Linked DNA regions of Homo sapiens. The protein of the gene in region 1 interacts with the protein of each later gene in a pairwise test. Each region holds a gene or a part of one and is shown in the gene's direction. Other genes may lie near its edges. The genes, in order: GNL3L, DCDC2 and ROPN1.

The links.
Region 2: the proteins of GNL3L (region 1) and DCDC2 interact in binary tests that used the Homo sapiens proteins (3 or more experiments, as listed by UniProt).
Region 3: the proteins of GNL3L (region 1) and ROPN1 interact in binary tests that used the Homo sapiens proteins (3 or more experiments, as listed by UniProt).

The regions. Positions count from the first base shown.
Region 1 is NC_000023.11:54,538,646-54,548,681, forward strand, and holds part of GNL3L (guanine nucleotide-binding protein-like 3-like protein), read left to right. Parts: intron 1-394; coding exon 395-456; intron 457-1,489; coding exon 1,490-1,597; intron 1,598-2,627; coding exon 2,628-2,744; intron 2,745-4,309; coding exon 4,310-4,393; intron 4,394-4,561; coding exon 4,562-4,697; intron 4,698-5,577; coding exon 5,578-5,681; intron 5,682-9,583; coding exon 9,584-9,728; intron 9,729-10,036.
Region 2 is NC_000006.12:24,283,807-24,293,842, reverse strand, and holds part of DCDC2 (doublecortin domain-containing protein 2), read left to right. Parts: intron 1-2,764; coding exon 2,765-2,911; intron 2,912-4,936; coding exon 4,937-4,991; intron 4,992-10,036. UniProt on the Homo sapiens protein: Protein that plays a role in the inhibition of canonical Wnt signaling pathway. May be involved in neuronal migration during development of the cerebral neocortex. Involved in the control of ciliogenesis and ciliary length.
Region 3 is NC_000003.12:123,987,916-123,998,227, reverse strand, and holds the start of ROPN1 (ropporin-1A), read left to right. Parts: upstream 1-6,103; 5' UTR 6,104-6,306; intron 6,307-6,869; exon of another isoform or gene 6,870-7,047; intron 7,048-10,312. UniProt on the Homo sapiens protein: Important for male fertility. With ROPN1L, involved in fibrous sheath integrity and sperm motility, plays a role in PKA-dependent signaling processes required for spermatozoa capacitation.

The DNA.
Region 1 (10,036 bases):
ATCTGCCCAGGTTTAGTGGGCTGGGACTCCTTAGATTACCTTCTCATTCTGCCAGCTCCCTCATCTCAGCCTGGCACTTAAATTGTTGAGTTTCCCCCAGTAGGAAGTTCTGGGGGAAAGAGGAGTCACAAGCACATATTCAGGTTTCTCTCTGTACAGAATTCCTCTCAGAATTATTTGAGTTTGCAGTGAAATAATGTGCAAATATTATATCCAGTACTTCCTCTGATACTATTGCTGCCATCCGCATCTCTTGTCTTGTGCTGGATCTAGACAGACATGGTATCTGAGGCTTCCTAGCTAGGTTCCCAGTGTGGCCTGGCCTTGATTCAGATGTCAACAAATATCGTGTAGATGGATGACGGCTCTTTTCTTTCTTTTTTTTCTTTTGTAGAAAATAAAAAGCCAGGTGAAGGTTCCAAGGGCCACAAGAAGATAAGTTGGCCCTACCCTCAGGTAAGGTATGCCTGTTGTTGAGGGTAAGGTCAAGAACAGGTTGCTTGTCCTGGGAGAGGCCCACTAAACCCAGTAAATATTGGGTGACTCTGGACAGAGTGCCACATTGGAGTCAGTGGATCTGGCTTTCCCTCCTTCTCTGGGTGGCCGCAGCAGAGAATCAGCAGCATTTTTCCCAAGTCATATGCAGCTTCGTGCTTGATTTACCTTGGTAGGGATTATCATTATCCCCATGTTTTAGTTGAGGAAACTGTCAGTGAGAAAGTTCCTAGGTTCAAGGTAACGCAACTGGGATTTGAGACTGTCTGATTCTCAAGTCCCTGTTTCTTATGGAGAAGAGGGAGGCCAAAACATCATCTTTGGTTCCTGGATCTCCTGGTCCTGCTGGGAAAGGTGTGGGTAAGTAAGGCTTGGGAAAGAGCAATGAGAAGAAGGTATAGGCCAGAGAAGGCTTGGGTTCTCACAATTTAGCATGGGTGAAGCTCTCAAACTTTAACCAGTCCTCTAGAATCACCTGGAGGATGGGGGAAAACATCGATTGCTGGGCCCCACCTCAGAGTTTCTGATTCAGTAGGTCTGGCATGGCATCCCATGATTTGTATTTCTAGCAAGTTCCCAGGTGCTGCTGCTACTGCTGGTCTGAGGACCACTCTTTTGAGAGTCACTTATCTAGAAAGGTTTTCCCTGGGCCTTGGGAAACCTTCCCAGCTGCCCTTCCCCTCTGAGAGGTCTCCTGTCAGTCCCTGCCTAGCTATAGGAGAGAGGACCTCTACCCAGCCAGATGGGCAGATCTTTGGGGATGGAGCCCTTTTTGCTTCTCTCCTTTCTTTGTCCCCACAACTACACTTATCTGAGAAGCTTTAACTCCTGCTGCTCACCTTGGGAGTGAGGGGATGAGAGGATGAGAGGATTGAGAGATAGAAGGGGCATTTATGAGGGGATGTTGTCTTCCTTCTAGGGCTTCTTGCTGCCTTTTTGAGGTGATTTCCATGGGTTCATTACCTCTGTTTTTTTTCTCTTATGTGGTGGCCAGCCTGCAAAGCAAAATGGGAAGAAAGCAACCTCCAAAGTGCCCTCTGCACCTCATTTTGTTCACCCCAATGATCATGCCAATCGAGAGGCTGAATTAAAGAAGAAGTGGGTAAGCTTTTTGCCTTGGTGGGGAGAGAGAGGGCCTGCCTTGAATGCCAGGTCCGCAGAAGTGTTGAATGGAAGGGCAAAGGCAAGAGTTGTTAGGGTTGTTGAGGCTATTTGTGGAAGCCGGGAGAGAGGGAGGTTACCATGATACTGGATTTATGTCTGCGTTTGTTCACCACCCAGTCCATTGCTGTCTGGCTTATGCTTCCACTGCTCTGCTGACACTGCCCCTGCTGGCCTCATCAGCGCCTTCCCTGACATCACATTCATGAATAGTATTCTTCCCTCATCTTATTGGAATGCTCAGCATTTGAGGCTATGCTTTCTTTGAAGCATGTGGACTTTCTTGTCATCTCACTCTCCTGGATGTCTTTCTTCTTTGACTAGCCACTGACAGTCTCTTTTGCCACTTTTTCCCCTTTCTTATCTTTTTTTTTGAGATGGAATTTCACCTTGTTGTCCCGGCTGGAGTGCAGTGGTGTGATCTCGATTCACTGCAACCTCTACCTCCCGGGTTCAAGCGATTCTCCTGCCTCAGCCTCCTGAGTAGCTGGGATTACAGGCATGCACCACCACGCCCAGCTAATTTTGTATTTTTAGTAGAGATGGAGTTTCACCATGTTGGTCAGGCTGGTCTTGAACTCCTGACCTCAGGTGATCCACCTGCCTTGGCCTCCCAAAGTGTTGAGATTACAGGCGTGAGCCACCCTGCCCAGCCTTCTTCCTTATCTTTAAATGATGAAGCATCCCAGGACCTTGGCTTCTTTCCATCTCTGGTCTTAAGTGGTTCCGCCTGCCTAGGATACATTCTCTCTCTGCTTTTTATACCCTCTTTTCTCTGCAACTCTTTCCTTCCCTTCATCTCTCTTTTTCTTCTTCTCAAACCCTCATCTCCTGATGTCATATCTTCCCTCTCCCTGGACCCTGCTCCTGCCACCTCTGCCATGTCGCACCATTTCCTCTGTCTGTCACCCATCCCTCCCTTAGGCTGCAGACCCAGTCAGCTCCAGTACCAGTGTGTGTTCACTTGTTAGGTTGAGGAGATGAGGGAGAAGCAGCAAGCCGCCCGGGAGCAAGAAAGACAAAAACGCAGGACCATTGAGAGCTACTGTCAGGATGTCCTAAGACGCCAGGAGGAGTTTGAGCATAAGGTAAGAGTGCAGCCCTTGCCCCTGGGTAGGTTTGCTCAAAGCATCTTTTGCCGTTTTTCTGTGAAAGGGAAGAAGGTGTGAAGTTGTTGGAGGGGAACAAGGGAATCAGTGTAGAGAGGATAGAAAACCATGGGGACGGACGAAGGGAGGGAGGGAGGGATAAAGGGAGATAAAGGGCCATTTTGAGCCTTACCCGTGACTGGACACCTCTGGAGAGCTCCTCTCTCCCAAGGTTGAGCCTGAAGACTGGGGCTGGTGGCGGAGTTGGGGGCTGGGAGAGTTACATGTGACCAGGGGATGGGGTTGGGGGAGAGGGAGCGAAAGTATGAGGAGAGGATTGAGAGACAGAGAGGAGCATATGTGAGGGGATGTTGTCTTCCTTCTAGGGCTTCTTGCTGCCTTTTTGGCAGATGTTCTTGTTTCACACACAGAATACACGCTTGCCAGCTCATACTCCCTTTTCTGATATGCAGTGTGTATGCCTCCCCCATCCTGTGTCCCTCATAGATTGTTTTTTTCACACCTCCCTCCTCCATCCCTCCCTTTCACACCCATGTGCACACTCAGGTCTCCACCTGGTGCTCGAGCACACGTATACACATAGGCGCACACATGAACCATGGGGTTCTGTCCATTTTTCTTCCAGTTCCCAGCTTTATTGGTTGGTCAAAGCTACTTTTTGGTGGCCTGAGACTCACATGATTTATTTTTTAAATTATTATTTTACTTTAAGTTCTAGGGTACACGTGCACAACGTGCAGGTTTGTTACATATGTATCCATGTGCCATGTTGGTGTGCTGCACCCATTAACTTGTCATTTACATTAGGTATATCTCCTAATGCTATCCCTCCGCCCTCCCCCCACCCTACAACAGTCCCCGGTGTGTGATGTTCCCCTTCCTGTGTCCAAGTGTTCTCATTGTTCAATTCCCACCTATGAGTGAGAACATGGGGTGTTTGGTTTTTTTGTCCTTGAAATAGTTTGCTGAGAATGATGGTTTCCAGCTTCATCCATGTCCCTACAAAGGACATGAACTCATCATTTTTTATGGCTGCATAGTATTCCATTGTGTATATGTGCCACATTTTCTTAATCCAGTCTATCATTGTTGGACATTTGGGTTGGTTCCAAGTCTTTGCTATTGTGAATAGTGCCGCAATAAACATACGTGTGCATGTGTCTTTATAGTAACATGATTTATAATCCTTTGGGTATATACCCAGTAATGGGGTGGCTGGGTCAAATGATATTTCTAGTTCTAGATCCTTGAGGAATCGCCACACTGTCTTCCACAATGGTTGAACTAGTTTCCAGTCCCACCAACAGTGTAAAAGTGTTCCTATTTCTTCACATCCTCTCCAGCACCTGTTGTTTCCTGACTTTTTAATGATCGCCATTCTAACTGGTTTGAGATGGTATTTCATTGTGGTTTTGATTTGCATTTCTCTGATGGCCAGGACTCACATGATTTTTTAAGCCTCCTATAGTTTAAAAAGCCCTGCTTCTCTTTCTCGCTCTCTCCCCCTCCTCCCCTGGACCATTCTCTTTTTTTTTCTCCTTTAGGAGGAAGTTTTGCAGGAATTAAATATGTTTCCTCAGCTGGATGACGAGGCCACGAGGAAGGCTTATTACAAGGAGTTCCGTAAGGTACAGGGTTCCATTTCTTCAGGCTTTTGCGGGAGGGTTCCAGTCCAGCCCCTTTTCCTCTCCATTTCTGTTTTTTCCTGACTGAGATGGAGATTTTTGTTTCACAGGCCTGCATCACTGCTACCCTATCCTTTTCCTGCCCTCATCTCCTGGTCCTCTGCCCTGCAGGTGGTGGAATACTCTGATGTGATTCTGGAAGTCCTGGATGCCAGAGACCCATTAGGCTGCCGCTGCTTCCAAATGGAGGAGGCTGTCCTGCGAGCACAAGGCAACAAGAAGCTGGTCCTGGTCTTGAACAAGATTGGTGGGTGTTAGGCAGGATTGGGTGTGACAGGGAAGGTGGGCAGGCCATCTTTAACGTCTAGCTTGGACCAGACACTGAACCCAGCAACTCAGTGATACTCATAATAGTCATGCAAAGTAGAAATTTTTGTTCCGATTTTCAAAGCCTGTATCACAGAGTATGGTACAAGTTAGGTGTGGAATCCAAGCCTGTCTGCCTTTCAGTCCCCTGTTCTTGCCATTTTGAGCCTTCTCTGTTTTTGGACAACCCTGGAGAGTTCCTCCTCCCTCAACTCAAAGACTGGGGCAGAGGAGCACATGGGCTCAGGAGTCACTCATGTCTAGGGTTCAGCCTCCCACCTGTCCTGATTCTTTTCTCTGAGACACTGGATAAGTCATGCCACCTCCAAGAGCTCCTGTTTCTCTAGCTGTAAAATGGGCCATGGGTATCCCAACCTCACAGATTTGTTGTAAGAATTAATGATAAAATGCTTGGTACATGGTGGTCAGTACTTCACACATGATAGCCATTCTTTTTAGGGTTATCTTTGTCATTTGGCCCAACCTAGAATGATCCAGAGAGGGGATAGGAAACACAATATTTGGGGGGTCTCTGATGCTCCTGGCGCTGTTTTGGAAAGAGAACATTTGGGACCAGATAGCTAGTTTGTCCATTTTCCCTGAGGGAACAGAGGCCCCTTCAGGGAGGGCTAACGCATCCCGTAGACCAGACTATCCTTTCTAACTCCAACCTGCGGACTGGATGGGAATGACAGGGCCAGTTGAGAGACCTGTTGATGGTAGGTGGGCCTAGCTTTGGGTACGGGTGGAGGTGTCTTTGGAGGGAACCATGGAGGTGTTGTTCTGCTTACCAGCCCCATCTGTTCCTATATTTACCCCAGACCTGGTCCCCAAGGAGGTTGTGGAGAAATGGCTGGATTACCTTCGGAATGAGTTGCCAACCGTGGCTTTCAAGGCCAGTACCCAGCATCAGGTCAAAAACCTGGTAAGCCTGGGGCTAGGGTCATCTAGCCGCTTTCAGGGTAGTTTGGGGCCAGAGCTGGGAGGGTCGTGACTTGGACTGGGACCTCCAGCCCTTTAGTAATTGAACTGGGCCTTCAACTTTGAGCTTTTTGCTCCACCGAGTGACTTTTTTTTTTTTTTTTGAGATGGAGTTTCACTCTTATTGCCCAGGTTGGAATGCAATGGTGTGATCTCGGCTTACTGCAACCTCCACCTCCTGGGTTCAAATGATTCTCCTGCCTCAGCCTCCAAAGTAGCTGGGATTACATGCACGCGTCACCATGCCCTGCTAATTTTTGTAATTTTTTTATTTTTAGTAGAGATGGGTTTTGCCATGTTGACCAGGCTGGTCTCGAACTCCTGACTTCAGGTGATCCACCCACCTCGGCCTCCCAATGTGCTGGGATTATAGGCATAAGCCAACATGCCTGGCCAGTGACTTCTTAATATTAGTTTCACTTGACTTCTTCCTGTATTATCACTCTTCAGGAAGCATTTCTTTTTTTTCAGTTGTAAGGATAAAACATAATGTCTATAGGGAATTTGTAAAATACAGTTAACTACTTGTTTGTTTGTTTATTTATTTATTTGAGACAGAGTCTCACTCTGTTGCCCAGGCTGGAGTGCAATGGCATGATCTTGGCTTACTGCAACCGCTGCCCACCAAGTTCAAGCAATTCTCCTGCCTCAGCCTCCCAAGTAGCTGGGACTACAGGCATGTGCCACCATGCCTGGCTAATTTTTGTATTTTTAGTAGACACGGGGTTTCGCCGTGTTGGCCGGGCTGGTCTCAAGCTCCTGACCTCGGGTGATCCACCCGCCTTGGCCTCCCAAAGTGCTGGGATTACAGGCGTGAGCCACCACTCCCGGTCTAACTTTATTTTTTATTTTTTGAGACAGAGTCTCACTTTGTCACCCAGGCTAGAGTGCAGTGGCACCATCTCGGCTCACTGCAATCTCTGCTTCCTGGGTTCAAGTGATTCTTGTGCCTCAGCCTCTAGAGTAGCCAGGATTGTGGCTAAGTTTTGTGTTTTTTTTTTTTAGTAGAGATAGGGTTTCACCATGTTGGCCAGGCTGGTCTCGAACTCCTGACCTCAGGTGATCTACCAGCCTTGGCTTCCCAAAATGCTAGGATTATAGCTGTGAGCCACTGTGCACAACCAACTACTTGTTAACTTTAAAAAATACGTATACCTCCAATCATTTTTCTCTTTGAAACAAATCACAGTTCTTCCCAATTATATCATTAATAGAGAAATATGTATGGTTTGTAAAATATTAATACAGAAACTGATTGTTTCTGGGAGAAAAATTGGATACTAAGGGACATTTTTTTTCAATTTTGCATTGGATGTTAAACTTATTTAAAAATAAAGTAGAAAAAATAAAATTAACTACAGATAAAGCTTAAATACCCTTTCACCAGTCTCCCTAATTCTAGTCTCCTTTATTCATGCCCAGAGGTAACTACCATTGACAGTTTGGTGTGCATTCTTCCAGACTTTATTTATTTTAGATACAGATATTTAGGGTCTCAATTGGTCATCCAGGCCTCAGTGCAGTGGCGTGATGATAGCTCATTGCAGCCTCAAACTGCTGGGCTCAAGCCATCCTCCTGCCTCAGCCTCCTGAGTACCTTGGACTATAAGTGCATGCCACCATGCCAGGCTAATTTTTATCTTTTTTATTTTTGTAGAGATGGGGGGAGGGTCTTGCTTTGGTGCCCAGGCTGGTCTTGAACTCCTGGCCTCAAGTGACCCTCCCATCTCAGCCTTCCAAAGTGCGGAGATTACAGGCGTAAGCCACTGCACTCGGCCTTCTTCCAAATGTTATTCTGTGCTTTGGATATACATAGAAGTGTATATATAAAGAGGGAATACTGTTTGGAAGTATTATGTATATCATTCTGTGGCTTAGTTTTTTTTTTCTCTTGGACATCTTTCTATAGAGATGTGCCTTTTCGAGGCTGAATACAATTAGTTTCCAGTTTTTTATCGTTATAACCTGGGCTTCCACAAATACCCTTGTACATGTCTCCTTGGCACATGGGCAAGTGTGTGTTTGTAGGTGAGGTAGAGAAAGGGAGTGGCTGGGTCATAGCCTTTCTGCATTTTACCTTTACCTAGACACTGATGAATCACCCTCCGTGATGGCTGTACCAATTTATACTCCCACCAGTGGGGTAGATGAATGTGTGAGAGGCCTCTTTTCCTACACCCTTGGCAACATTTGATAGCATTAAACTTTTAAACCTTTCAGAAACATGATACCTTATTTACATTTTCTTGGCCTTTTTAAAATTTAAATTTAAATTTTTGTTGAGATGGAGTTTCACTCTTGTTGCCCAGGCCGGAGTGGGATGGCACGATCTCGGCTCACTGCAACTTCTGCCTCCTGGGTTCAAGTGATTCTCCTCCCTCAGCCTCCCGAGTAGCTGGGATGACAGGCATGTGCTACCACGTCTGGCTAATTTTGTATTTTTAGTAGAGACAGGGTTTCACCATGTTGGTCAGGCTGGTCTTGAACTCCTGACCTCAAGTGATCCACCTGCTTTAGCTTCCCAAAGTACTGGGATTACAGGTTTGAGCCACCGTGCCCAGCTTCTTGGCCTTTTTGATGGCAAAAATAGAAGCCGCCTTTTCTTTCTTTTTTTTTTCTTTTTTTTTTTTTTGAGATGACGTCTCACTCTATCTCCCAGGCTGGGGTGCACTGGTGCAATCTTGGGTCACTGCAACCTCTGCCTCCCGGGTTCAAGTGATTCTTCTGCCCCAGCCTCCCGAGTAGCTGGGATTACAGGTGCGTGCCACCACACCCAGCTAATTTTTGTATTTTTAGTAGAGACGTGGTTTTGCCACGTTGGCCAGGCTGGTCTTAAACTCGTGACCTCAAGTGATCCGCCTGCCTTGGCCTCCCAAAGTGCTGGATTACAGGAATGAGCCACAGCACCCGGCCAGAAGCCACCTTTTCTAACAGCTGTATTTCATTTGTATTCCACTTTAAGGCTACAGCTTTTTAACCTGTTTCTTATTGATGGATATATAGGCTAATTCCAATTTTGTGATATTGGAAACAATGCTGTGGCTGGGCGTGGTGGCTCATGCCCGTAATCCCAGCACTTTGGGAGGCCAAGGTGGGCAGATTGCTTGATGCCAGGAGTTTGAGACCAGCCTGACCAACATGGCGAAACTCTGTCTTTACTAAAAATACAAAAGTTAGCCGGGTGTGGTGGTGCATGCCTGTAGTCCCAGCTACTTGGGATGTTGAGGCATGAGAATCGTTTGAACCCAGGAGGTGGAAGTTGCAGTGAGCCAAGGTTGTGCCACCACACTCCTGCCTGGGTGACAGAGTAAGACTCTGTCTCAAAGAAAAAAAGTAAGGGAAGAGGAGGGAGGGAATTCTGGGCAGAGGAAGTGGCATCAGGAGTAAAGGTTGGGATGGCTTTGTCCTGTGTGAGGAATTGAGGGAGGGTAGGCTGTGGGCCAGGCTCCCTCTCATCCCTGCGCAGGCAGGGAGGGTGGGCATCCCTGTTGTGCACACAGGGCACTGAGGCCTGGAGAAGGGAAGCAGGCTTTGCTGGACATAGGCCTGTGAGAAGTAGACCTGGAGCTCAAACCTGGCCTATTTAGAGCCAGGATGCCATCCTGCCACTGCCGAGGGAGGCAAGTGACATGTGTCGAAGCAGACGCAGGGGCAGAGGAGACTGGAGACACAAAGACAGTGGAGGGGAATGGGGAAATGACACGTGTTCAAGATCTGTGTGAGAAGCCTTCCGTTTCAGGCTGAGGAGCTCAGTGATCATAGGGAGGCCCTGAAAGTTGGAAATCTGGGCTCAGACCTCATCTGCCACCTGATGTCTCTTCTGTGATATTCAATTTTTTTTTCCAGAATCGTTGCAGTGTGCCAGTAGATCAGGCCTCTGAGTCACTGCTGAAAAGCAAAGCCTGCTTTGGAGCTGAAAACCTCATGAGGGTTCTGGGGAACTATTGCCGCCTTGGTGAAGTGCGCACCCACATTCGTGTGGGTGTTGTGGGTAAGACCTGCTGTGTGGTCATGGGGCTCAGGCTTCTTTCTTGAGCGGACACTTCGCTGGGGGAAAGGATCCTGGGAGCTTCATTGTCTTTTGCGGGGAGAGAGGAGTGGTTCAGGAGAAGGGTTTCGTGATTTGTAACTTGGATGGGTGGGCATCACTGCGTATTGAGTATTAGATTCATGGAGCAAATACAGGGTGCCAGGCTTGGACTTGGTACCATCTCATCCTATCAGAGCTATGGGAGGATGGGGTGACCGTCTACCTTTTACGGATGAGAATTCTGAGTGAGGCTCAGAGAAGGGCAAAGG
Region 2 (10,036 bases), on another chromosome or scaffold:
GCGATCTGAGGGTGTGTTTGGTATGATTTTGATTCTTTTACATTTTCTGAGGATTGTTTTATGTTTGGTTTTGTGGTTAATTTTAGGGTATGTGCCATGTGGCAATAAGAAAAATGTATATTCTGTTTTGGGATAGAGAGTTCCATAGAGGTTTATCACATCCATTTTGTCCAAGGTTGAGTTCAGGTCCTGAATATCTTTGCTAATTTTCTGCTTTTATGATCTATCTAATACTGTCAGTGGAGTGTTGAAGTTTCCCACTATTATGTGGGAGTCTAAGTCTCTTTGTGGATTTCTAAGAACTTGCTTTATGAATCTGGGTGCTCCTGTGTTGGGTGCGTATATATTTAGGATAGGTGAAATTCTTAATGTAATGGCAGATATGAGAGATTTGGTTGCTGCTCTCTTGGGATATGACCGTTTTCCTTTAACGTTAATAAATCTTATGGTTGGCCCCTCCCTATGCATCAGTATATTCATATATAAAAAGCATCCCATAAAAATTTACTGAACTTGCTTTTTATGTTTCTTGTGTTTGTAGCAAAAGAAGAAAGTAGAGCAACAACAGTTATATAAAAGAAGGCTAAAATCATGAATTAGAATTTATTCAGTGCTGGGCCAGGTGTGGTGGCTCACGTCTGTAATCCCAGCACCTTGGGAGGATCACTTGAGCCCAGGAGTTCGAGACCAACCTGGGCAACATAGCAAAACCTTGTCTCTATTAACAAAAAGAATTTATTCACTGCGTTTTACTTACCTGCAGAGGAAACAAGTCAAATCTTGGCTGTTTCCAGAGTCCACAGCTATGCTGGTTTTTAATTTCTAGCTATGAAATTACTACTGATTGAGATATAACTATTTTGAAGAAAAGTAGAAAAATAGTGCTTGGATATAGGCCATTGGCTCTCAAGCAGGTATGATTTTGCCCCTTGGGGACATTTGGCAGTGCCTGAAACCATTTTTGGTAGTCCCAACTGGGGATGGGGTGGCTACTGCTACTGTTTAGTGGGTGGAGGCCAAAGGTGCTGCTAATAAACATCTTACAATGTACAGGGCAGCCTACTCACCTTTCCAGCAAAGAATTATCTGGTCCAAAATGTCAATAATGCCAGTATTCAGAAACCCTGGTCAAGTGTTTTTTGAGATAGCGTCTTACTATGTTGCCCAGGCTGGTCTTGAACTCCTGGGCTCAAGCGATCCTCTTGCCTTAGCCTTCCAAGTAGCTGGAACTATAGGCATAGGCCACCATGTCCAGCTTAAGTTAAGGCAAAAAACATAGAATTCTGGGTTAAGTGTTGATATTTAGACTTGTTAGGAGTAGAGGTACAATGTTATAAAGAAAGAGACTTTACCATCTGTATACTAACTAAAAACACAAATACATTTCAGGAATGTTGGTGGCTATTGGTGGCTATTTTCATTGTATTTCATGGTTCTGTATGATATGGCCATTTATGTCATCAGGAAACAAGCTGACAGGTCAATGGGTTTTTTTTTTTGCGTCTGTAAATGACATTTAATCTTATTATGTAATATAGGAAGACAGAAAGCTTTTTGATGATACTGAAATCCTTCCATTTATTAATAGCTCTTGCTTATAACCTTAAAAAATATGCACTGTCTTTCTGGTTTAGTTTTCTAATACTTATTTTCCTGTTCTTTAAAAAAATTTTTGTGGACATTTAAAATCATCTGGTAAAATTATGACTGTTCTTTTAATAAGTAACATATTAATTGTAGCTCGTAGCAGCAGTTTTACAGTAAAGGAAGGTTACTGTGAAACTGCTCGATTCTGGGAAGATATAATGTTCACTCTTGTTTTGCTTAGTAGGGACGGCAAAAAAAAAGAAAGAAGCACAAATGCTATGCAGTTCTGCATCATTAACACTGGCAATGGGTTCTTTTACCTCCTGCCCTCTCACCCCATTGTTCCTGACCCGGTTCTCTGTGTGTTTGTATGTAATATTTTGGTTGAGGGCTGTTCTTACACAGAATGTGGTCAGAAGCTTGCCAGCCTGATGAATATGCTAAGAAAATAAAATTTAAAAGTATTAACAAGGCCGGGCGCGGTGGCTCATGCCTGTAATCCCAGCACTTTGGGAGGCCGAGGCGGGCGGATCACGAGGTCAGGAGATCGAGACCATCCCGGCTAAAACGGTGAAACCCGGTCTCTACTAAAAATACAAAAAATTAGCCGGGCGTAGTGGCGGGCGCCTGTAGTCCCAGCTACTTGGGAGGCTGAGGCAGGAGAATGGCATGAACCCGGGAGGCGGAGCTTGCAGTGAGCCGAGATCCTGCCACTGCACTCCAGCCTGGGCGACAGAGCGAGACTCCGTCTCAAAAAAAAAAAAAAAAAAAAAAAAAAGTATTAACAAAATATAAATAGAAGAATCAATGTTCAATGGAAACAGAGCTTTATTTAAAGCACTGTGATCTGTACAAGTTAATTTTTCTCCTCTAAAATTTTAATATGGCAGCAATAGGGATCCTTATGCCAGATCATCAGACTCACTGGGGTGAAACCCTGTACAGCAAGATAGTCATTGTATCTGCATTATAACATTAGTATTTAGTGGAATCTGATAACTTTGAGGCATCTATAATGCAATAATGAGGATAGTAACAAATGAGCTAAATTAAGTACAGAATGTTTTTATTTACTATGTAATTTTAATTTTTTTGACATCCAGAATACTTTGTAATCTTAAGCAATTCTTTAAATGTTGGTTAAAATTCTAATTGTTGGTGTTCATATTTTCGACAGGCTTTATACTTTAGAAGGAAAACTTGTTGAGAGTGGAGCAGAGTTGGAGAATGGGCAGTTTTATGTGGCTGTTGGCAGAGATAAGTTTAAGAAACTGCCTTACAGTGAGTTACTTTTTGACAAGTCAACGATGAGAAGGCCTTTTGGGTAAGTCTTACTCCTTACCACTCCTCATGCTTTAGTTACCACTTGAAATAGCATTGGGTCTTTTGCTGACCACCATTATATTTTATGTAATTGATAATCTTATTTATTACTTAGAATGGAAAGCATATATGGTATACATTGATCTTTGTTTTTATTGCCATGATGGGAGACTGAAAGCTATTGAACAAAAATATAATTTCTGGGAAGTTATGAAAGACTACATGGTTTTTTTTTAGCATGCATGAAATTTATAAGTAAATGCAAAAATTTATTATTGTGAAGAAGATACAGGGCAATGAGCTTCTCTACAGCAAACATTATTAGAAGTTTTTGTGTCTTAATAGTTGCTAGACCAAATAACTTTTCAGTTGGTTTGGATAGAAACATCCAAGAGTGTTAAAAAACTCATAATATTTTATACTTGTTTTAATAATAACTGTAAAATATAAAAACAACATAATCCCACTTATGCAAATAGAGAGGATGGGTGTACAGTTAATTCATGTAAAATTTTAAGGATTATATTTTTAATTACAATATACCGTAAACAGTTTTTCTCCATGAAATGTCATATATTTGTGAAAGATGCTTTATTTCAGCCTAGGAGATACACTGCGGAGTCACTCAAGAAGAGCTCTGGGCCGGGCGCGGTGGCTCACGCCTGTAATCCCAGCACTCTGGGAGGCCGAGGCGGGCGGATCACGAGGTCAGGAGATCGAGACCATCCCGGCTAAAACGGTGAAACCCCGTCTCTACTAAAAATACAAAAAATTAGCCGGGCGTAGTGGCGGGCGCCTGTAGTCCCAGCTACTTGGGAGGCTGAGGCAGGAGAATGGCGTGAACCCGGGAGGCGGAGCTTGCAGTGAGCTGAGATCCCGCCACTGCACTCCAGCCTGGGCGACAGAGCGAGACTCCGTCTCAAAAAAAAAAAAAAAAAAAAAAAAAAAAAAAAAAAAAAAAGAAGAGCTCTGGCCCATGCTGCAGGATCTCTCGGCTTGCTCATGGTGCCCAGGGATCCATCTCTGTTGCTTTTCCCAGAGATTCTGTGGCCACCTTGCCATTGCAAAAAAAAATTTTTTTTGGTTGTCGTCCGCAGAAGTAGAGCAGAATATCACCAGTGTGTTTGCAATTAATTCACAATTTGTGTAACTTGATGGAGAGGCTGGCCAAGAGCTTCTAAATAAGTAATAGATGAAGTGGAATTTCAGGGGTGGTGTTTGAACTATGCAAGAGCACATGGTTTTCTAGCACCTTTGAATTATTTACCAGCTGACTTATCGCTAACCAACCTTACCCATCCATGAAATCAAATCTTTAGCCATCTTTGCTAAGCAGCCCTAGGTTAACCTGCTGTGATCAACAGTGTGTACCTGATGGTAATAAGAAAACTGTAACTCACGTTGGCCTTTCTCATACAATTAATAAGAATTTTTTTTATATATGTGTCCTTCTATTTTTGGAGAGATTCAGTTGGGTTTCAAGATGGGTCTTTTCCTAATAATACAGATATCAACAAAACAACTTATTCTTACAGCCTAAAATAATTTTTAACTTTTTGGTGAGGACGACTTGTTTAAAAACTACCTGAATGCAAATGCCAGTGTTTTACCTCTGCTCTCCTATCAGAGGTAGACATAGAAGACATCATAGAAACGAAGGAAATTTGTTTTTAACTCAGTCTGGAAAAATCATTATTCACATTTGGAAATGATTTTTTGAAATGCAAATAGGACACTTTGGGATCTGGATAAAAATGCTATACAAATTTCAGGTGATACTAAAAGTTTACTTGTAAGCATTGATTAAAATATTATACAGGAAAACATTACAAATCTTTTGGGATGGAATTTGGAAATGTTATGATCTTTGTGAAATTGGGAAAGTATGTGTTAAAGTGTATGTTATCTACCTTTTGTGAAACACAGCAGTAAACAGTTGACTTCCAGGTGGGGATGATAATTATCTTGCATTGTACATTATTTGTAAACAACATTCAGATTTCTAAATTGCAATTTGTTTCCACAGTCAGAAAGCTTCTTCACTACCTCCTATTGTAGGATCCAGAAAGTCTAAAGGGAGTGTAAGTATCAGATGCTTTCCTCGTTGATGTTCTATATTTTTATATGATACAAAGAGACTGTCCTTTGGGCTTCAATTAAGTTCCAAGAGATAAAACTTAGCCGCTTCGTGGTGTATAACCAATTATGTGAAACAGCACTAGAACTTTAATGTTACACTTATGGTCCTAAACAGAGCTAACATTTTTTAGAATATGTATTTTAAAATTTTTTCCTTGTATATACACCTGACATAATTTATATTGCACTTAAAATCTTGGCAATAATACTTTAAACTGTAAGAACCATTGTAGTAGGTCACATCAATGATCATCCAGTCTTGGTTTCTATCTTTAACGAAGACTAAAAGGGAAGTTTCGCTGAGAAAAGGGGTATAATCCTCATTAATATTCCTTGAAAAGATTGAGAATTGTTCTAGGTATTTAGTTTGCCATCTGAATCTTTTCCATTTATCATTTATTCATGGTTTGTTAATTCAGCAAACATTTATTAAATACCTACTCTGTGGGAGTAACGACAGCATTTAGTAGGTAATTTCCTAACCTTCTTGTGTTTTCAGTCTGCGCTCCCTGATGGGGTGAGCTCCATGTCATGCCAGAGCGTTGCCTTGGCAGTTCTTCCTGGCTGAGGCTTCTCTTTCTTCCCTTTTGGTTGAATTGCCCGACAAGTTGTGATCAGAACTGATTTGACATCTTCCACCCACACCCTGAATTAATTAAGCAACATTCTTATTTTGGTATTTTGTAAAGTAAATGATTTCTAGGCAATGATATTGTCTCCTAATGATTTAGATCCCTCCTTTTTTTTGGTTATATCATGTGAAATTCTTGAAAGAAAGACAAATAATTTTGTGTACATAAGTAGTGCCGAACTCAGCATAACAGATATTAAGAACTCATTAGCTGAGACTCTTATACTATTATGACAAAAATAAAATAAAAATCAATAGAGCTCTTGCCCTCAAGCAACTTACAATCTACTTGAAATAAAGAAGATAGCTTAAAAAGGCAACAAACAAGCTAATGCTAAACATCAAATATCTAGAGATTGGTGACCATGAGAGGGAGGGAAGGACTGAATGTACAATGGCAGCAGTCCACAGAGGAAGTTGAATTTGAGCTCTGCCTTTGAAACTGTTTAAAATTCAGAAAAAGGTAGATGAGGGGAGAGGACCTTCAGATCCAAGGGAGGGTGAGATGGTTGGGGCAGACGTGGGCATGCGAAGAAGCAGTCACGCTGGCTGACATTTACCGGGCCCTTGTGGGCTCAACACTATGCCAAGCTCTTTACAGTAGTGATTTATTTAACCTCACCCCACAAGGCAGGCATCTTTGTCATCTACATTTAAAAAGGAATGAAAAAAGGAAGTACACAGAGTAGAAGTGACAGGTTCAAAGGCTCCCATTGAAGGCAGAGGTTGCAGTGAGCAGAGATTGCCCCACTGCACTTCAGCCTGGGCAACAGAGTGAGACCCTGTCTCAAAAAAATGAAACAAAATAACATAAAATACAATACAATACAAACAAAGGCTCCTACTGAGCAAATGGCAGGGGAGGAGGGGAGGAATTGCATCCACACAGCCAGCTCAGAGCTCCTGCTCCCGAGCCCCGGGACAATGAGTCCCTTAGGCTGACTGGAACAGATGGTCCTTTTTGGTGTGGGGGCTGATGTGCCTGACATGGTAGGTGGTGACAGTTATTACATGACCTTGAATAGCAGAATGAAGAGTCTAGTGTTTGTCCTTGAATAGAGGGCAGCCCACAAGGGCTTCTGAGAGGTGAGAATATTAATCTGAGTCCATTTTGGGAGCATCAGATCTTTTACATGGAGGAAGACTTCACGTGGTGAGAAGCCATAGATAAGTCGATGGTTGTAAGGCAGTTGCAACTATCTTGGTATGAGGGGAAAGGAGCCTAGACTGGGGAGGTGGTAGAGGCAGCAGGAAGTGATGATTATTCTGGAAGAAACCAAGGAACAAAGGATTTGTGTGATGATTGGATACAAGGGGTTAATGGAGAAATTGGGGCCAAAGATAACTGAGGTTTTTAAGCTTGGAATTTGAGAAAATGGTAGTTCTATGGCCAAGAAGAAGGCAGCCAGGGCAAAGAATGACCTACGTAATTTCAAACATGTTGAGTTGGAAGTATCATCAGGAAACTTAGTTGAAAGTGTGCTGCAAGCAGTTGTAAATGGCAGAGCTGAGGCCTGCCAAGGACATCAGGACTGAAGCTGCAGTTGCAGGTGGTTTTTTTTTTTTTTTTGAGACAGGGTCTCACTCTGTCACCCAGGGTGGTGTACAGTGGCATGATCATGGTTTACTGTAGCCTTGACCTCCCAGGCTCAAGCGATCCTCTCACCTCAGTCTCCTGAGTAGCTGGGACTCCAGGCATGTGCCACCATGCCTGGCTAATTTTTGTGTTTTTTGTGGAGACAGAGTTTCACCTTGTTGCCCAGGCTGTTCTCAAAGTCCTGGGCTCCAGCGATCGGCCTGCCTTGGCCTCGCAAAGTGTTAGGATTACATGTGTGAGCCACCGCACCTGGCCTGAGTTGTAGATTTGAACAACCATGTAATGGTCCTAGTTGAACAGCAGACGTAGCATCACTGTGGTACTTCATCACCCAGCACAGCTTGAACAGAGCAGGTCTCACTGGTGCTGCCAAGTGAGAGAATGGATGAGGGGCTCCTAGAGGAAGATGGTGCGGTGAGAATTACAGAGGGCCCAGGCTTGAGGCAACCTAACTTCACAGGTGCGGGGTCAAAGAGGAGTGAGAAGAATATTTCAGGAGGTGAAAACAATATCAGAGCAACTATAAAGCTAAATAAAACTCATGAATTTAGGGATTGGAAATTGTATTTTGCTTTTTTTGTTTTTCTTTAGGACTTTGTAGCAGAATCCCTTCTGTGTACTGTATAGATATTAGCTTATTAATTCTCACAGTGCAGCTAGAGGAATGATTACAGAGACCGATTGTAATTGAATAAATTGATCAATAAATTGATCCCAAGTCACAGGGAAAGTCGATGTCAGGACCAAAGTCATGACCCAACTCTTTGTATTCACAGTGACTGAACTTTGGAATGATATGTTTAGTATTCTGAAATTTGAAAAACTAAAATTTTAATTAAAAATGTGTAGAGCATTTCCTGCTTTAAAATGCATGTGTAGGTACACACATGCAATTTTTATTTCTTGCTCATTTGTAAGTTTTTTAGACTGTGCTGTGAATACTGTGATACATCAATGTCATCACATCAATTCATCTGATGATTGAATTTTCCAGGTGTATGGCACAGTAGTAAGCCCCAGGGATACAGCAATGAGCGCAAAGATCTGATGCTCTCTCTGATACTCGTGGTCTACTTGAGTAGACAAAAGTGAAACAAGCGATTCCATTAATCAATGGATACTTATGAAGTATAAAAATGAAAGAAAAGTGCACAGTAATATGAAAGACAATAAAAGAAAAACACATTTAGATAGGTGTGTCAGGGGAGGCCTCATGGAGGAAGTGACGTTAAGCAAAGACTCAGTTATAAGGTATATTTGCATCCCATAGAAAGCAAAGTTGTCAAACGTAGTTCCATGCTATGACTTAGAAAAATAAAATGATAGCAGAGTTTGTCCCTCTTTCCACAGTGTTCCCGTAGCACCCTGTATTCATCCACTCCATCCGTCATCCATTCCAAACATACTCACTGAGCTCCTACTAAGTGCCAGGAACTGTAGGCACTGAGCGTATAGTGGTAGATAGATGAGGACTTAGATTTATGGTGCTTTCATTCTAGTGTGTGTGTGTGCATGTATGTGTGTGTGGGGGGGAGGGTATGGATGGGATGAATGGGAGTAGACAGACGATCAACTAGTAAACAAATGTACAAATAGTTTCAAATGGTGATAAATGCTATGGGGAAAATAAAATGTAGCAGGGCATTGATTTATATAAAATTGTCTGAAACTGAGACCTTAATGATATCTAACACAGCCAATTGTGCCAGGGATGAGGCCGGGGAAGAAGAGCATCCAAGGCAGAGGAAACAAAGTCACACAGGCCCTTGCTAAAGAGCCTGGCATGTGAGGAGGGCAGAAAGAAGGCCGTGAATGAAATCGGAGAGGCAGGCAGGGCTCAATCATATAGGCATGCAAAGAGTTTGGATTTTATTTCTTGATGGGGTGCCATTTGAGGGTTATAGGGAGGGAGTGATATAATTTGCTTCAAAAAAAATTTTTTTTTTTTTTTTTTTGAGACAGAGTCTCACTCTGTTGCCCAGGCTGGAGTGCAGTGGCATGATCTCGGCTCACTGCAACCTCTGCCCCACGGGTTCAAGCAATTCCCTGCCTCAGCCTCCCGAGTAGCTGGGATTACAGGCGCCCGCCACCATGCCTGGCTAATTTTTGTATTTTTTTTTTTAGTAGAGACGGGGTTTCACCATCTTGGCAAGGCTGGTCTTGAACTCCTGACCTCATGATCCACCTGCCTCGGCCTCTCAAAGTGTTGGGATGAGAGGCGTGAGCCACCACGCCTGGCCTGCTTTACATTTTTAAGTGCTCATTCTGGCTGTGGTATCTCTAGAGAAATGGTTTGGGGCAAGAATAGAAGCAGGAGGCAGTGGGACACGTACAGGTATGTGATATAGGTGAGTCCGCTAGGTGGCCGCAGTGGGGGCGGACATCTATTATAACTCTTCTTTGAGTATATTGTCATTGACTGATTCGCTGATCCAACAACTATTTATTGAGTTCATATGATGTCCTGGGACTGTTCTGGTGCTTCAGGGCCCAGAGATTCTGAAGTACTAAATGCACGGAGGTTACATTCCAGAAACAAATGCACAATACGTGTGATATACACCAGGGATAAACATGAATAAAAATACATGAAGACATGGGAAGAGGAAGTGAGAGAGGGTGCTATTTCAGCTGGGTGGTTGGAAAGGCCTCTTTCAGGAGGTCACGTTTGAGTAGAGGAGAATAACCCCTGGCACAGTGCCCAGTGCCTGGTAGGTTCTCACAAACTCGGCTTAGGCAGTGTGTGAATGTTTGGCATT
Region 3 (10,312 bases), on another chromosome or scaffold:
AGGGTGAATGTAAGATGCTAAGGGCTTAGATCAGTGTGGAGCAGTGACACTGGCAAGAAATGGACAAAGGCACGGTACCTGTAGGTGAGAAGCATATGGGCTGTGTGAGGAGAGGCAGAGGGGAGTGGCTAAGGGTGATTCTTAGCTTTGTAGTGGGGTAAGAGGGAGGAGGATGTCTCCACTGACAGCACTATGAATGTCTGAGGCTGGCCCTGGGGAAGATGATGTGCCCTTTGTGAACTTGTTTGAATGAGGTCCAGGACATTTGGACAAGGGACTGAGTTGAGCAGGGAGGTTGAGACTTTAGGTGTAGATTTGAGTCATCCACGCAGACAGCTAGCTGGAAAACTTCTATCCTTAGGAGGATAGGAATTCTCATGAAGGGAAGACAGAGAGAAAACCAAGGACTGAGGAGGTTTTCTTTTCTTTTCTCTCTCTATTTTTTTTTTTTTTTGTGTGTGTGTGTGTGATGGTGGGGAGCAAGGGAGTGTTGTGCATATTTAGAAGATGAATAATGTGGAACAGAAATAGAAGGCTCTGGAGGCAGGAAAACCAGGCAGTTTTCTGAGGGGTGAGAGTGGGCTGAAGTTCAGCTCCTACCCTACTTGTCAGGCCATATGCCCAAGGGGGTATGTCTGCCCCTGAGCGACCACCTTTTTCTAATGTATGTGAAGATGCCATACAGCCTAGGGGAGTCCTAAGTAGAATCAGGGCAGCCACAGAAGACACAGGTGTCAAGAAGGAAGGAACCGTGTCCACACAACTCACCCTGCCTCCCAGTGACAAATATTCTCCTTTCCCCCCACCCCAATCACTCAAATCCTTAAAGAAGTAGACTTTGATTAGGTAGACATTTTCATTTATGTGGAATTTTGTGGTTTGTTTCTCATAATTGAGTGGTTATAGGAGGTGTTGCTCTCCTAGGTTCTAGAAAAAGACTACACACAGAGGTAGCAGGAAGAGGAGGGGATCCAGAACCACAATGAGTAGCTGTGCTTGTCGTCTCAATGGTTTCAACTCTGAAGAGAGGTAACGGACCTTCCCATCAGTTTCTTTCATAAAGAGGCATATTGTGGTAGGCAGGATTCTAAGATGGCCTCCAACATTTCCACCCCCTGGTGTACATGCCCTGTATAATCTCATCATCGCTGTAAGTCTGGGTGAGACCTATGAATATGAGGAGATTTCATTCCTGTGATTAATATTCTGTGGCAAAAGAGAACTTTCAGATGTAATTAAGGTCCCTAATCAGTTGACTTTGAGTTAGTCAAAAGGGAGGTTATCCTGGGTGGATCTGACCTAATCCAGTAAGCCTTAAAAAACAGACAAAAGAAACAACAACAGGTGCCTCTGCTGGCCTGGAAGAAAGCAAACATCAGTGTCGTAAACTGCCATTCCAGGGCCATGGAACTACGACGTGAAAGTGGCTTCTATGAGTTGAGAACAATCCCTGACCAAAATCCAGCAAGAAAATAGGGACTTCAGTCCTACATCCCCAAGGAACTGAATTTTGTCAACAACCAATGAATATGGAAGAGGACCCTAAGGCTCATATGAGAGCACAGCCCTAGCCAACACTTGGATTTTAGCTGGGCAAGACCCTTAGCGGAGGACCCAGCTAACCCACTCAGACTCCTGCCCTGTGGAAACTGAGATCAGAAATCTGTGTTGTTTTAAGCTGCTAAGTATGTGGTAATTTGCAATGCAGCAAAAGAAAACAAATGTATATGTGAAAGGAGTTTATGTACACAGGGTTGACTGGCTCCACGGGGAGTCTAACAACCACACCCCACAGCTAAATCACAGAATTGTGCTGAACCTGAGTATGGTGTACCCATCATCACTGCTCAGCCCCAGCCTCACCATGATCCAAGCAGCAGGTGGGACAGGGTCACTCTCGTTTCCTCCTATGAAATGGCACATTTAAGATCTGGGGAAAGTGACCCACAATATAAGCCACATAGGATAGGGAGAACTGACTCTCTGAGCTCAGAGATAGTATGAGACAGTTGATATTTATTATAAGGCTGAGATGGTAAGAAGACCGTCAGGATTCCCACTCTCTGGTGCCAGACCTATGGTTACTTGGCCAGATAGAACTTTAGTCCCTAAGATACTGAACATGCAAAGCTGAATGGACACTAAAGTATCATTTTTCAGAAGGCCCTCTTAAGGAAGGAAGGGGAAACAAGGTGGAAGGAGAGAAAAAAAAGGAGAATTTAATTCAGTAAACAAATATTTATGGTACCCATTATGTGCACAGTTCTGTTCGAGGCTCTCGAAATACAGCGGTGACTAAAACAAACAGAATCGCATGCACTCCAGTGAAAAAATATAGAGAAATCAATAAAACAAAAATTTAAAAATACATAGTATGTAATGATTATAAAGCAAGGGAGGAGTTGGAAGGGATATTGGTGTTCAACTTAAAAGAGTCAGATAAGACTCCCTTAGAAGGTCACATTTGGATACAAAACCGAAGGTGCTAAGGAATGAACCCTGTGGATACCTGAGGAAATCATGTTCCAGGCAGATGAAATGCAAGTGCACAAGTCTTGAGGCAGGAGAGGGTCTGGCCTTTCTGAGGGATAATAAGATGGCCAGCATGGCTGGAGGGAAGTGATGAAGGAGAAAAGAGAAAATGATGGGTTCAGAGAGTTTAAGGGCCTGTGGGTTATTTTGACTTTTACTTGCATAAGGTGGGAGCCACTGAGGGTTCTAAACAGAGGAATGACATGATCAGTCTTAGGTTTTCAGTAATTCGATCCTGCAGCTGTGATGAGAACAGACCCCTGGAAGGGAAGGGCGGAAACAGGGAGACAGGTTAGGAAGCCATTGTAGTGGTCCGGGTAAGAGATGAAGTTTGCTTGGACCAAGGTGATGGAAGTGGAGAGAAGTGCTCCAATTCTGAATGACTTTTGGAGATACAGCCAATAGCATTTGCTCTGATTGGATTTAAGGTGTGAGAGAAAAAGCAGCCAAGGATAATGCCAAGGTTTTTAGCCTCTATGAGGAAGCCTGGAGGAACTGGTTTGGAGAGGAATCTTAGAGTGCAGTTGGGGTGTATTAAGCCTGAGAAGCCTAATAGACATCCAGTGGTGCAGAGTAAACAGTTGGATGTTCTAATGTGGTATTTAGGGAAGGATTAGGGCTGAAGACATAAATGTAGTATCCAAAACATGAAACTGGATGAGATAAAAAAGAGAGTGCATGTAGATAGAGAAGTCCAAGTGTAAATCCTAGGGCACTCCAAGATTAAAGTGCCAGGGAGAGGAGGAAGAACAAGCAAAAGAGACTGAGAAAGAACAGCCAATGAGGAAGGAGAAAAACCAAGAGTCTAATGTCCTGGAATCCAAGGAAAGAAAATGTTTCAAGCATGTGAAAGTGATCAACAGGGTCAAAGGCTGCTGATAGGTTGAGCCGAGGCTGAGAGATGATTTTGGATTTAACAGCATGTCATTGGGGACTTTAACACAAGTCATTTCAGTAGAGTGGTGGGGATGAAAGCCTGGTTCAAGTATATTAAAAAGAGATTTGGAAGAGGGAAATTAGAGGTGGCAGGTATAGGCAACTCTTTTAAAGAGCTTGGCAATAAAGGGAAGCAGAGAAAATGGTCAAAGCTGAAGAGGAAAATGATGAAGGCATGTTTTTATGTTGATGGGAATTATCTAGTAGAAAAAGGGAAATGATGAGAAAGGATATAGTCAATATTCGTTCGTACAAGAAAATAGCAGAAAACAGTGTAACCTACTTGATAAAAGATTGTATGTAATAAAAGATTTTATTGTAATATTTAAGACAGATTTTTTACTGAAACATAATAAACACCCATGAACCCATCACCCACCCCAAAACTAGACCACTACCAGTAACATCTATGTGCTCCTCCCTCTCTACTCTTACCTCTGTTTTAGAAGAAAGCAACTTTCCTGAATTATGTTATTATCATTTTCCTGTAAAATTGTATTCTCTTGACTGTATCCTGTTATATTTATTGACTAACAGATCAAGGATAATCTAACCTAGGCCTCTCAACCTGGCCTCCTACAGACAGACATCAAATCGCCTCAGTCAGACAGTCCCATGAAATTCCTCCCTTGTGTTTAACTTGCTACACTAAAATTCTATTCTGTTTCATCTCCCATCTCTAGCTGCTAGTGCTTTGTCTGAAAAACCCCTTCTTCTGCACAAAGATCATTATTATTCACTCCTGTCAGCATTATTTACTCTGCATGAAAGCAGGAAGAGATTGGCACACCTTTATCCCATGTGCATACAACAGAACAGACCCCAGTGGCCAGAGCATTCTTGTTATCCTGGAAGATGCACCTGCAGCCCTCAAGCCTCCAGCCTCCCCCTCCCAACCTAAGGCACACCCTGTTTGTCAAGTGCCTATACCAACACCTGGCAGCCCCTCCACAGAGGCCTCAGAAAGGCAGGTGATAGCTAGTGACTAGGTTTCTTTCATCCCCAGATCTTGCCCTGTGGGCAGTGGCCATCCCCAGACCATCCAGGATTCTCCAGGTGTGCAAGGACCTACAGGATTTTGACAAATGCCAGCAGAGTGGCCTCTTTACAAATGGATGACAACAGGCTGTGAAAAGCTTTCTGCATGCGTAACCCAAAAATCTAGTTCCCCCACTTGTTCACTGATGCTTAAAATTGCTTTAGGGAGAGACAAAGGCTTTCATCTCACAAACAGAGAAAGCTTTGAAGGGCCTGGGTGAACTAATCTATTTAGACTAATACACACTGTTGTATAAATGGAATGAAGGATTAGATGATGCAATGGGCCCCTTTAAAATAGGTGTGAAGTGACACGGGATGTAGCAGAGAAAGATGGGGCTTTTCTTGCCTCCTTGGGTGCTTAAAACGAACAGTCTTGAGACCAGGTGCGGTAGCTCAAACCTGTAATCCCAATACTTTGGGAGACCAAGGCAGGTGGATCACTTGAGCCCAGGGATTCAAGACCAGCCTGGGCAACATGGCAAAACCCCGTTTATAAAAATATAAAAATTAGCCTGTCATCGTGGCAAGCACCTGCAGTCTCAGCTACTTGGGAGGCTGAGGTGGGAGGATTGCTTAGACCTAGGAGATTGAGGCTGCAGTGAGTCATGATTACCCCATTGCACTCCAGCCTGGGCAACAGAGCAAGACCCTGTCTCAAAACACACACACACACACACACACACACACACACACACACACACACACACACACAGTCTTGAAACCGGAAGACCTGGAGTAAAGTTGGGCCCTGAGCCCTACTGCCAGCTGTTCGATCACAGGCAAAATTACTCGAAGCCTTGAGCCTGTTTTTTATTTCCAAAGCGAAGGTAATACCTACCTTCAGAGTTTACTGTGAAACTTTGATGTCATCATGTTTGTAAAAGTGCCCTGGCACAGTGACCACATTCTACCCTATAAATATTTTCTATCTTTCCCTGTTGTCCCCAGGCATCTCAGGCTCTGTTCCTATCCACTCCATGCCCCTTTCTTAGCATTATAAGGTCAAGAGTGAGGAATCTGGGACCACGCAACCCAGATTCAGATCCTGACTCTGTCACTTGCTGACTGTCATCTTGGACAAGTTTAACCTCTCTGTGCTCAGTTCCCTCATCTGTAAAAATGGGGATAACAATAGTACTTGCCTCATGGGGTGACAGTAAGGATGAAATGAGTTCATGTGTGTAATGCACTTAGAACAATTCCTGGCACCAAAAACTCATTGTAAGAAGTGTTGTTACTATGATTCCTGAGGAATTCTCACCTGTCCACTTTCCACAAGCCGAAAGATCAAGCTCCACTTCTGCCCTCTCACCTACAAAAGCGCACCGTCAATGGCTACACATTCCGCCCCACCCCCAACGCCCCCAGCCCGGGTTTCCTAACGTCCCCAGCCCAGTCCTTAACCCTCCAGGCCGTCTGGTCCTTCCACCACCAGCAAAGCCCAAAACAGCTTTCAGCGTCCCCTAGCAGCGCCCTAGCGGGACCCTGGGAACCCGCCGCTGCAGGAGAGGCGGGGCGGCTCTGTGACGTCGCGCCCGGCGCTACCCCTGGTGACCTGGCAGCGGAGCCCGCGCAGGGTTTGCCAGGCGAAGGCGGAGCGCTAACGTCTAACGCTAACGGCGGTCGTGCCCCGCCGCTGCTGTCACCCCCGGCCGCTGCTGCCCTCCCCGCCGAGGTTCTACTGCTCTCCTTCTTAAGAAGGGTGGGAGGCACTCGGTCTCTCCCCACACCTCTCGCCTGAGGCCAGGCGCCAGGTGTCGCCTGAAGCCAGACAGCCGGTTTGGGAGCGAGCCTGAGGTAGCCACCCCGAGGGGAAGTGGAGGGAGGGCAGGGCTCTGAGCGCCCCGAGGGCTGCGCTGGTCTGAGGGAGGAGCCCTGCCGGACGCCCCCTGGATTCTGAGCCTCTCCTTGTTCACAGGGCAAGGGGAAGGCAAGGGGATCTTCAAGAGAATGTGACTGTGGGGGATTATGGCTTTCTGGCCAATTTGTGTGCGTATTTTGTACCCAGAATACTATTATACGGTTTCTTACCCGGAGGACAGTGGTTGGGAGGCTCAAGAGTTTGGAATCAGAGCCCTCCACCGAGGAGCCACACCTCTGCTTTTTCATCAGCGACAGGGATATAAAAATACCTCTGGGTGAATTGTCATGTGGATGTCATGGGCATACCTAGCACTTCATAGACTCCTATCACACATTATTTTATACCTAGCACTTCATAGACTCCTGTCAGGCATTATTTTATACCTGGCACTTCATAGACTCCTATCACATATTATTTTATACCTAGCACTTCATAGACTCCTATCACGCATTATTTTATACCTAGCACTTCATAGACTCCTATCACGTGTTCATTTTATAGCTAGCACTTCATAGACTGCTATCACGCATTCATTTTTACTAGTACCTATTGAACACTAAGTTCCAGGCACTGGGCTAGGCACTGGGATGGTGTGGTGAGCAAAAACTGACCAGTCCTGCCGTGGAGTTTGCTGGGGGAGACACATGTTACTCAAAGAATCACACTAAGGATAGGTAAGTGATGCTCTGGAAGGGTATGTACAATGGAACTGACAGGGTAATCAGGGAAGGTTAAGCAGACCTCCAAAGGAAGAATCAACCTGTTAAGAGGAGGAGAATGTATTCCAAACAAGAGTAACCACATCCCAAACCCACCATCTCCAATTCCAAACCCAAACAGGGATGTGCAGTTGCCTGTGCTTGGTTCCAAGTGATACTCATAGAAACCCTCTGAGATTCTGCCCTGGAGCCTTTCATTCATGTTACTGGAGACTTTCATTTATGAAACGGAAGCCCTGTTTAGCCCATACCAATAAAACCAAGTGAGAGATCCCTGAAACAAGGCTATAGTCTATTTTAAGACCTACATTCTTCAGCACTTGGCAGGTATATGTTGGCCTCCATTTTACATTGAGAGGCATGTAGGTTTCACTTAGGAGGAAATGCATTGAATTGAAAGAGTTGGGGTTATGGATAAGCTCTGGAATGTATAATTGAAGAAGACCTACACTATCAAGAGATTTAAAAATGGAAAATAACTTTACAAAATGTTAGAATTGAGGAATGTTAAGATAGAATGGACCTTTCTCCCACTTCTTTGATGTGAACAAATGACCCTTATTGCCCAAAGGCAGGAAAGCTGGGCTTTGGTGCCTCTTCAACTCAGAGAGTCTATGATTTCAACTCTGTGATTCAAAAGTGCATGGAACTCCTGAAAGTAAATGGGAACATGGGGGGATAATTTGACCTGACCCTCCTTTAGTGTTTTCTATTTCTACAAGGGTACCACCACTGTGCACCCAGTCATCCAAGCTTGAAAACTGATAGTCACTCTAGACTTTTCTGTCCTTCACCTCTTCCTCCTTCTCCACCTTCTCTTCTTCCTCCTCCTCCACCTCCTCTTTTCTTCCTCCTCCTCCTCCTTCAGTAGTTACCAAATCCTGTAGATCCTATCTCCTAAATACTTGTCTCTTATATCACTCCCTATTGCAACTACTTTTCAAGGCAGTGAAGCTCCTGGGAGTTGTCAAAAGTGCTGCCATATTCTCCTAACCTGGCTCCCTGCCTGAAGCTTCACCATCCTCTCTTCAGCTCATCCACACAGCTGTCAGTCAACGTGTTTCAGAGTCCAACAAAGAGAAATAAATCATATAGTAATTTTTTGAGCATATAATTTAACAAGAGAAGTTCAATATAAAGAATTGTTAATGATGGGATTGGAGTAATGAAGGATTGGCTAATATGTCAGGAGAGATCTAAAATATACAGGAATCACAGATATAAGGGGCAACCACTACCCCTGAGATAGATCACCCAAGGAAGAAACCTTTCCCAGAGCTTGGTGCATAGGGGATGGCCACAGCTGACTGGAGAGCAGAGAAATTGCTGAGGTGCCAGGCAGGCAAAATTTACTCTCTGAAACACCAGAGAAGCCATTCACTAAAAGGTAACTCACTGACAGCACTCTGCTATAGAGCTTCCCAAGAGAGGTGCCAGGGGACACTGCTAGCCATGGAGCACTGATAGCCACTGTGTACTCCAGCAGTTGGGCACTCAAAAGATCACACACTGCATGAAACAGATGCTAGAAAAGCTGTGTGCTACAGGATCCCAGCATAGGAGAAACTACAAGTTCCTGGAGCCTAGCAAGAAGAGCATACCTAAATTCCTAAGAGAAACCTCTTCCTCCTCCAGTCCTTCCAGTGCCCTGTCCTAACAAAGCATATCCTTATGACAGCTGACAAGGGAAAAAATGTTAAAGGACCTAGTTCAATTTTTGTGGAGGAGGCAATACAAGGTGAATTTGGAGCTGAGAGGCAAATATTGATAACCGGACCTAAAGCTAACACTGATTGTGTGACTCTTGTGCTTAAATTTTCTAGTGGTTCCCCATTGCCTTCAACAAAAAGTTCAAAAGCCCAAGCCTTGAGCTATATTTCCAGCCTTAGGCCCAACCACTCCTGCTTTGTCCACTTTAGAGCTCCATAATTACAGTTCCCTGAACTTGTCACGTTTCTGACAACCCCACATCTTTGCCTAAGTCCTTCTACCTACATGAAATTCTCTCCTTACTCTCATAAGTACACATATGCTTACTGAATACCTGCCCTGTACCCGGCTGTCTTCTGAGGGCTTGCAGTACAGCAATGAACAAACCAGGTTTTTCCAAGTCTCAGTTCAGATATCTCAGATATCACCACTCTTTGAAAAGTATTTTCTGACCTCCTTCTAATACCTGCAGATGTTAGATGCCTCATCCAAGAGTTTTTCTTCTGTTTTTCTTCTGTTCTTCTATATCTAGTGCAGGCTTCTTGACACTTATTATACCTTCTTTGAGTCACTGATTTTCCTGTCACTCTCTTCCACTGGACTGTGAGCTCCATGAAGCAGAGTGTGTGACTTATTTATTCATGTATCCCAGTATTCAGCACAATTCCAATAAAACACATAAATTTTGTCAGATTAATGATTTCCTAAGGATCACATAATTAGTCATAAATAGACCCAGGGCCAAAATCCTGGACTCCTGCCTCACAGTCAAGAGTGCTTCTTCACTACAGCTTCATCTGCCCTCTAGATGTTATGCCACAACTAGCTACGAAGGATAGCAGCCCTATGTTTTGCTTTGGAAAAGGCCAGTGCAATGCTGAATATCATCAGGAATGGTAATGGAAACTGAAGAGAAACATAGCCCTAATCTTATATTGGAAACTATAGTGCATTCACCCCCTCAGAGCCCTTGCTTGTAGGTTTTAAATCTCTGACTCACAGGAATGCTATAATGAAATCAGAAGTAGGAAGGACAACTTCTGATTGTCCTTCTGACCTGATTGTCAGCCTGACCAACATGGTGAAAACCCGTCTCTACTAAAAATACAAAAATTAGCCAGGTATGGCAGCACACACCTGTAGTCCCAGCTATTCAGGAGGTTGAGGCAGGAGAATTGCTTGAACCCAAGAGGTGGAAGTTGCAGTGAGCCAAGCTCATGCCACTGCATTCCAGCCTGGGTGACAGAGCAAGACTCCATCTAAAAAAAAAAAAATGTAGGAAGGACAAGTAAAAGATGAAAATGGTGTGGGGTATTATGACACTTACTCTTAATAAAGACTTTCATACTCTTATATAAGACAGGGCTAAGGTGACCCAAGTGTGTACACCAGGTCCCCAAATCAGGGAACCATGTTGCACAACTTTACAGGACATAGTTTACATGCCAGTCTGTAAATGAGCCATGTGTCCCTAGAATTGTGGATGATGATGCGAATGAACACGAGGGAA